Linked DNA regions of Homo sapiens. The protein of the gene in region 2 interacts with the protein of the main gene of each other region in a pairwise test. Each region holds a gene or a part of one and is shown on either strand. Other genes may lie near its edges.

Region 1 (4,012 bases), on a different chromosome or scaffold from region 2:
GTGGGGAGGGTTCTGGAGACTGGCACCGAGCCAGGCTCCCTGATCCCTGCTTCCCACAGCCAGGGTGGGACCATGTGGGGTCTGGCGGAAAAGCTAGGGAGGGAGCAGAGGTCACAGAGGCTGGCCCACTCTGCTGTCCCGTTTCGGTACAGTAGGCTCGGGAAAGTTAAGACACACCCCCACCTGCCCTCTGGATTTATGGAGCTGACACTCCACAAATGATGCTGGAGCTGGGTGGGCCGGGCTGCGGTTGAGGAAGTGATCAGGATCACGTAGGTGGGCGGGCAAAGGGAGCTTCTGGGACCAGCCTTGAAAGATGGGTGGAATTCTGCAAAGGTTACTTGTTTCTTATTGCAAAAAGTAATACATCATTCTTGCCAACAGAATGATTGGCAGGATTTTCAGTAAAGGTCCAGGTCGGAAGTCGTTTAGACTGGGTTCCCCAGTCTCTGTCAGAACCATGGTACTCTGTTGGGGTGTGAAAGTAGCCACAGATCATCTGTAGATTAAGGGGTGTGGCTTTGTTCCAATAAAACTTTATTTACAAACACAGGCTGTGGGCTGGATTTGGCCTGCAGGCTGTAGTTTGTGATCCTTGATTCAGACAGTTTAGCAAGGCTGCAAAGAACACCGACACCCCCTTGTTACCCACAGATGGGTGAGACTGCGTTGGCCAGAGGCCGAGAGGAGGGTGCTCACAGGGGAATGGGCAGCACGTAGAGGCCGGGAGGTGCTCCAGGGCACCAAGTGTGGGAAAGTGGGACATGCGGGGAAGTTTCCAGAAACTGTGATGTCAAGTTGGAGGCGGAGTGCTGCTGGGGTGTGAAGGGTCTCGAGTCCAAGTGAGGGAGTTAGGGACTTGGGAGGGGTTGTTGTTGGGTCGGGGACCTGGGGTCAGCCAGGTGGTGACCTGGGATGGGGTGGGGACAGGCAATGAGGTAAGCTCTGCTCTTTATTTTTTTGCAGATGCTTTTCTCAAACTTTCCTGATCCTGCGGGCAAGCTAAACCAGTTCCGGAAGAACCTGCGGGAGTCGCAGCAGCTCCGATGGGATGAGAGCTGGGTGCAGACTGTGCTCCCTTTGGTTATGGACACATAACTCCTGGGCCAGAGGCTAAAACCCCAGGACCCCTGCTGTCCTTCCCGCAGCTTCTTCTTGGAGTCTCAGGGCAAACCCTTTCGAGCAGCACCTCCCAGTGGCCAGAAGCTGAAATGACAGCAGTGGTACTGCCTGGTAAAAGAATTGGTTCTGTGACCCGGGAAGCTTTGGTTGGCCTTGATTTCTTCTCTGGAGGCTTGGAAACGCTTCCTCTCTTCTTCTGTTCTTCACGCCCCATGCCCCTGCTAGCGTATTACTGTTCTGTGACTTCCCTGTGACCTCTGCAGAACTCCTCATCCTGCGTTTGGTCTCCAGGTGTCCCCTTTCTGCCGTGTTCCTAACATTTTGATTCCTGTCTTGAAAAAAGCACCTGCTGCACCGTAAGCCCAGGGATGTGGCAGCTGCAGTGGGCTTGGCTTTGTGAGGAACTGAGTGTGTCCACGTTGGGGGAACATCATACTTGATACACACGTTTTTATTTGCACAAAGAAAATGCTATTTTTGGAGCCAGAATTTTCATGTCTGATTTATGGTGATTTTCTTAAGAACCAGAACTGCTGGCAGAAAGGGGGCACCCACACGCTTAGATAGCCGATGTCTTATTAGAGGGCAGTTTGTGGTTCCTGATTTGGAAATTAACATTCTCCAAACATTCCAGTCCAATGAAAGTTTTATCCGCTTTCCCATATAAAAATTCTTCCCATGAGAGTGACTTGATTCTCACAATCCCGTTGGAGTCGTGTGTGAGTCCTACAGGGTGAGATTCAGCATTGCCATCTCCAAGTGCTCTTCGTAGGGAAACAGTTTCTGCTCATGACGAGGTTCCACTTCCCATCTGATCCCGGCCCGGCCTGGAAACAGAGCACATGTGTTTGAGGATGGCGGTGTTTGGGGACAGGACATGAGGGTATTGTGTGGGGCTGCTAGGACAGGCCTGGCGGGGTAGGGGGGTGTCCAAGTCAGTTTACTTGGTTCACAGGTTCCCAGGCCCACCCAGGTGCCTAGAATTGGCCTCCAGGATGGGACCAGAAAGCTGGTTTTGCATAGAAATGGCTAGCAGCAGGCACCGTGCCGCTGTCCACTCTCTGCCTGTGTCTGCCCCAGCACTTGGCACAGCGGGACAGAAGCAGAGATCTGAATAGTCAACCCACTCTTCACAAAGCTTAGAAAGCGGCCGGGCACAGTGGCTCATGCCTGTAATCCCAACACTTTGGGAGGCCAAGGCGGGCGGATCACTTGAGGTCAGGAGTTCGAGACCAGCCTGGCCAACATGGTGAAATCCCATCTCTACAAAAATACAGAAATTAGCCAGGCATGATGGCGAGTGCCTGTAATCCCAGCTACTTGGGAGGCTGAGGTGGGAGAATTGCTTGAACCCAGGAGGTGGAGGTTGCAGTGAGCTGAGATTGTGCCACTGCACTCCAGCCTGAGTGACAGGGTGAGACTAAGTCTCAAAAAAAAAAAAAAAAAACCACACGCACCACACACACACCCACACACACACACAGCTTAGAAGGGGCTGCTGTTCTCATAAGCACAGATGTCTGAAGAGCCGTTAGCCAGAATGATTCTTTTTTTTTGTTTTGAGATATGATCTTGTTCTGTCACCCAGGCTGGAGTGCAGTGGCACAGTCATTGCTCACTACAGCCTCGACTCCTGGGCTCTAGCAATCCTCCCACTTCCTGAGTAGCTGGGATGACAGGTGCGTGCCACCATGCCAGTAATTTTTTTATTTTGTAGAGATGGGGTCCTGAACGCATGGCCTCAAGTGATGCTCCTGCCTCAGCCTCTTTTATTATTTGTTTTTAGACGAAGTTTTACTCTGTTCCCCAGGCTGGAGTGCAGTGGCACAATCTCAGCTCACTGCAACGCCTCCCAGGTTCAAGTGATTCTCCTGCCTCAGTCTCCCGAGTAGCTTTGACTATAGGCGTGCACCACCACGCCTGGCTAATTTTTGTGTTTTTAGTAGAGATGGGGTTTCACCATGTGGGCCAGGCTGGTCTTGAACTCGACCTCCCGTGATCTGCTCACCTCAGCCTCCCAAAGCCTCAGCCTCTTACAGTGTTGGGATTACAGGCGTGAGACACTGTGACCCGGGACGATTTTCAATCACAGTTTTTTGTTACGAGTGGAAAATGCGTATTTATAAGAATGAAGTAGTACAGACATGAATGTGTAGAAATCTCTATAATCCTGCCATCCAAGGATGGCACCTGTTAATGTGTATATCAGGGATGTCCAATCTTTTGGCCTCCCTGTGCCACACTGGAAGAAGAAGAATCGCCTTGGGCCACGCATAAAATACACTAACACTAGCAATACCTGATGAGCTAAAAGAAAAAAAATCACAAAAAAACCTCGTACTGTTTGAAGAAAGTTTACAGATTTGCGTTGGGCCGCAAGTTGGACAAGACTGCTATATGTATATTCTAGGTTTTCCCCTATAGGTATACTTATGTGAAAATGATTATTGTGATAAATTTTGTTTTGAGATGAAGTCTCGCTATGTTGCTCAAGGTGGCCACAAACTCCTGGGCTTAAGCCATCCTCCCGCGTCAGCCTCCTGAGGAGTTGGGAATATAGGTACTCATAACCATGTGTGGGTGATTATTATTAGTTTTTAAACAAAAATGGGGTTGGGCGCAGTAGCTCACGCCCGTATTCCTAACACTTTGGGAGGCTGAGGCGGCAGATCACTTGAGGTCAGGAGTTCAAGACCAGCCTGGCCAACATGGCGAAACCTCAACTCTACAAACAATACAAAAAATAGCCAGGTGTGGTAGCACGTGCCTGTAGTCCCAGCTACTCAGGAGGCTGAGATGGGAGGATAGCTTGAACCTGGGAGGTGGGAGGTTGCAGTGGGCCGAGATGGCACCACTGCACTCCAGCCTGGGCAATACAAAGCCAGACTCT
Region 2 (3,200 bases):
ACAGCAAACTTTTTAAGGAACACGTGTAAGCTAGATGGCTCCTAAGTTTGATAGTTCATACCTCACGTGGAGCAGATAAGCAATTAAGAGTTTTGGCTTAAAACTTTTCTCCTATTCCCAGAAAACAAAAGGTGTTGTTGTCATTGTTCTTAGTCAATAAAGCACTATCTACACAAAGAAGGTAATAGGACATATCTGAGAACAATCTGTTGAGATGTAGCTGAGATTACAATCTGAAAAACTGAACAGAATTCCAAAAGAAAGCCGTGTTATTTTAGCATAGTAAAATGTAATATAAAGTGTACCATGTGTCTGAAATTTAATGTCTCTGAAGTAGCTAGGAATTTTTGTAGCTCCGCCAACCCATTCTACCACATAATCATTGAGATTACAATTAAACTAGCTACTAAAACTTAACAAACAAGGAAAATGGAACCAACAGAAAACTAAACTAGGTTAATTTGTAGAGAAATGATAACTATGCATAGGTTTTTTTAAAGAGACAGGACTTATTTTAAGGATTTTTAAATTGAATTCATAAAGCAGTTAAATTTTTGGGAATTTATTGATTTGCATTTAAAAGGGAACTGCTGACAAAGATTCACTGGTAATAATTTGAACAAGTTGGAAAATACAGTCAACATTACTGAAACACTACTAAAATAATTCCAGGACAGAACAAAACTTCTTAGATGCTGTCTTTGATGTGAAAATTGACTGCTTCTTACTTTTCTAACACACGGTGGTATAATTAACAATATTCAATCACTTCTATTCTTTCCTGCATATATAAAAATTAAAATACCAATTAAAAAACTAATATATCTTCTCTTTATTTCTTACAGATATGAGTTCAATGTTTCACTCAATAGTGCTGTGGTTTAAGAGAATTTTTTCATTTACAAGTTAAACAACAATCCGCCCAAAGGGAACTGATAGTCTATAGGCTCATAGTGCAAATAAACAGTTTAGGAATGCAGCAACTGACATTTCTAAAGTACAAAACAGATAAAATTCTTAGAAGATACATGCAAAAAGCTCTACTAAGCAGATGGCCACAGAACTAGAACATTGATAATTTTACTGGCGATGTCAATAGGACTCCAGATGTTTCCAAACTCAACTTGAACTCTCATCTTAGGCTTTGTATTTTGCTTTTCCAGTTTCACTAATGACACAAACATGCTATAAAAAAAAATCCAGAAATTCACATTTAAAAAGTATATTCTGAAATGAAAGGCAAGAATAGCATTTTACATATAAGAACACTATTAGTTGTCAGGGTTCTTACTAAACAGAGATAGTACTACTGTATTTTAGATCAGTAACTTTTGGGGAGTGTATCTTTTGAAAACAAAGCAGTAGTCTATCACATTAGTTTAATTTGTTTCTTGTTTTTGTTTTTTTTTTTGAGACGGAGTCTTGCTCTGTCACCCAGACTGGAGTGCAGTGGCACGATCTCTGCTCACTGCAAGCTCTGCCTCCCGGGTTCACGCCATTCTCCTGCCTCAGCCTCCCGAGTAGCTGAGACTATAGGCGCCCGCCACCACCCCAGCTAATTTTTTCTATTTTTTAGTAGAGACGGGGTTTCACCGTGTTAGCCAGGATGGTCTCGATCTCCTGACCTTGTGATCCGCCCGCCTCAGCCTCCCAAAGTGCTGGGATTACAGGCGTGAGCCACCGCGCCCAGTCTGTTTCTTGTCTTAATACGTAGTTTTTTGTTTTTTGTTTTGTTTTGAGACAGAGTCTTGCTCTGTCACCCAGGCTGGAGTGCAGTGGCGTGATGTTGGCTCACTGTAGCCTCTGCCTCCCGGGTTCCAGTGATTCTCCTGCCTCAGCCTCCCAGGTAGCTGGGTTACAGGCACACACCACTACGCCTGGCTAATTTTTGTATTTTTAGTAAAGGTGGGGTTTCATCATGTTTGCCAGGCTGGTCTCGAACTCCTGACCTCAAGTGATCTGTCCGGCTTGGCCTCCCAAAGTGCTAGGATTACAGGTGTGAGCCACCGCAACCAGCCTCAATATGTAGTTTTGAAAGACAAATCAAGGAGATAATTTCAAGCATATCAAAGTGGGAGGCCAGTGTACGTGGCAAAAAAAGATGGAGTAAAAAACCTGCTTTAGGTAGTGTACTGTTGCAGTCTTCCTAAATCTTCCTCAACCATGTTCATAAACACATCCATGGGACTTCTGCCTCCAGAGTAAGAGGCAGGTATTCAAAGGACAGTGAATTAAAAGACTAAACTCGATCATTTATTTCTTACTTATGACCACATTTATCATCTGAAATAATAATGCAACAATTATTGTATATTAAAGCTGTTCAACTATTTCAGCCAACAAGAAGTGTCACCCTAGCCTGGCCAGGTTCCAGTTCTAAGGACGTCTGTACTAGACTACAGCTTTATGTGACTAATGGGAACCATCAGTCTGTTCAAATTATGAGGTGCTGGAAGGAGAAAACAATTCTCTTTCCTAAATTTTTATGCGTGTTTTGAAAAATGAGTGAGAAAAAGAAGCAATTACTTACATTCAAATCCCTGAAGTATTCATTATAGTCAAGGGCATATCCTACAACAAACTTGTCTGGAATTTCAAATCCAACAACTAAAAAGAATCATAATTCATCATTTAGATAAAGAAAACATCACTTTTAAATCTAATACTGGCAAATGTGCCTCTCTACAAATATTCTCTAAGCAATTATAAGCCATTTCACATAAAACTCTTTTAGGTTAAAGATGGTTAAATGATTGACAAAAAAAGTAATTCACTTACAGTCTGGCTTATATCCAACACTTCGTGGGGTCCTTTTCACCAGCAAGCTGTTAATTACAAAATGTGACATATAACATACAGAGAGACTACAGGGCATTACAAAAGAGAAGACTGACGTTTCTAAACACTGTTTCATTTCATCCGTGCTGAGTGTACCATGGTCACTTTTAACACACCCAAGGAAAGACTATGAAATGGAGAGCTAAATTATGGGGATTACTAGGAAGGGGCAGCAATGAGTTGACACTACAGACAAGGCACTTGGTTGATCACCTGGAACCTGAAGGACAGTTCTGAGACCTGCACCCTGACTACCCATGTGTCCATTGAAGGGGAGCTAATAAGGAGGATTAATGGGTACAGAGTGTCAATGAGCAAAGATGAAAAGGGCTCTCAGTCTAGAAACCTTGGAAATACAATCC

What was found.
Region 1: the proteins of HPRT1 (region 2) and EEF2KMT interact in binary tests that used the Homo sapiens proteins (3 or more experiments, as listed by UniProt).

Annotation. Positions count from the first base shown.
Region 1 is NC_000016.10:5,083,784-5,087,795, forward strand, and holds the end of EEF2KMT (protein-lysine N-methyltransferase EEF2KMT), read right to left. Parts: intron 3,597-4,012; exon of another isoform or gene 1,950-3,596; coding exon 1,849-1,949; 3' UTR 1,099-1,848; coding exon of another isoform or gene 967-1,098; 3' UTR 501-966; downstream 1-500. Other genes in the region: ALG1 (chitobiosyldiphosphodolichol beta-mannosyltransferase), read left to right, coding at 967-1,098. UniProt on the Homo sapiens protein: Catalyzes the trimethylation of eukaryotic elongation factor 2 (EEF2) on 'Lys-525'.
Region 2 is NC_000023.11:134,498,015-134,501,214, reverse strand, and holds the end of HPRT1 (hypoxanthine-guanine phosphoribosyltransferase), read right to left. Parts: intron 2,826-3,200; coding exon 2,779-2,825; intron 2,608-2,778; coding exon 2,531-2,607; intron 1,186-2,530; coding exon 1,138-1,185; 3' UTR 547-1,137; downstream 1-546. UniProt on the Homo sapiens protein: Converts guanine to guanosine monophosphate, and hypoxanthine to inosine monophosphate. Transfers the 5-phosphoribosyl group from 5-phosphoribosylpyrophosphate onto the purine.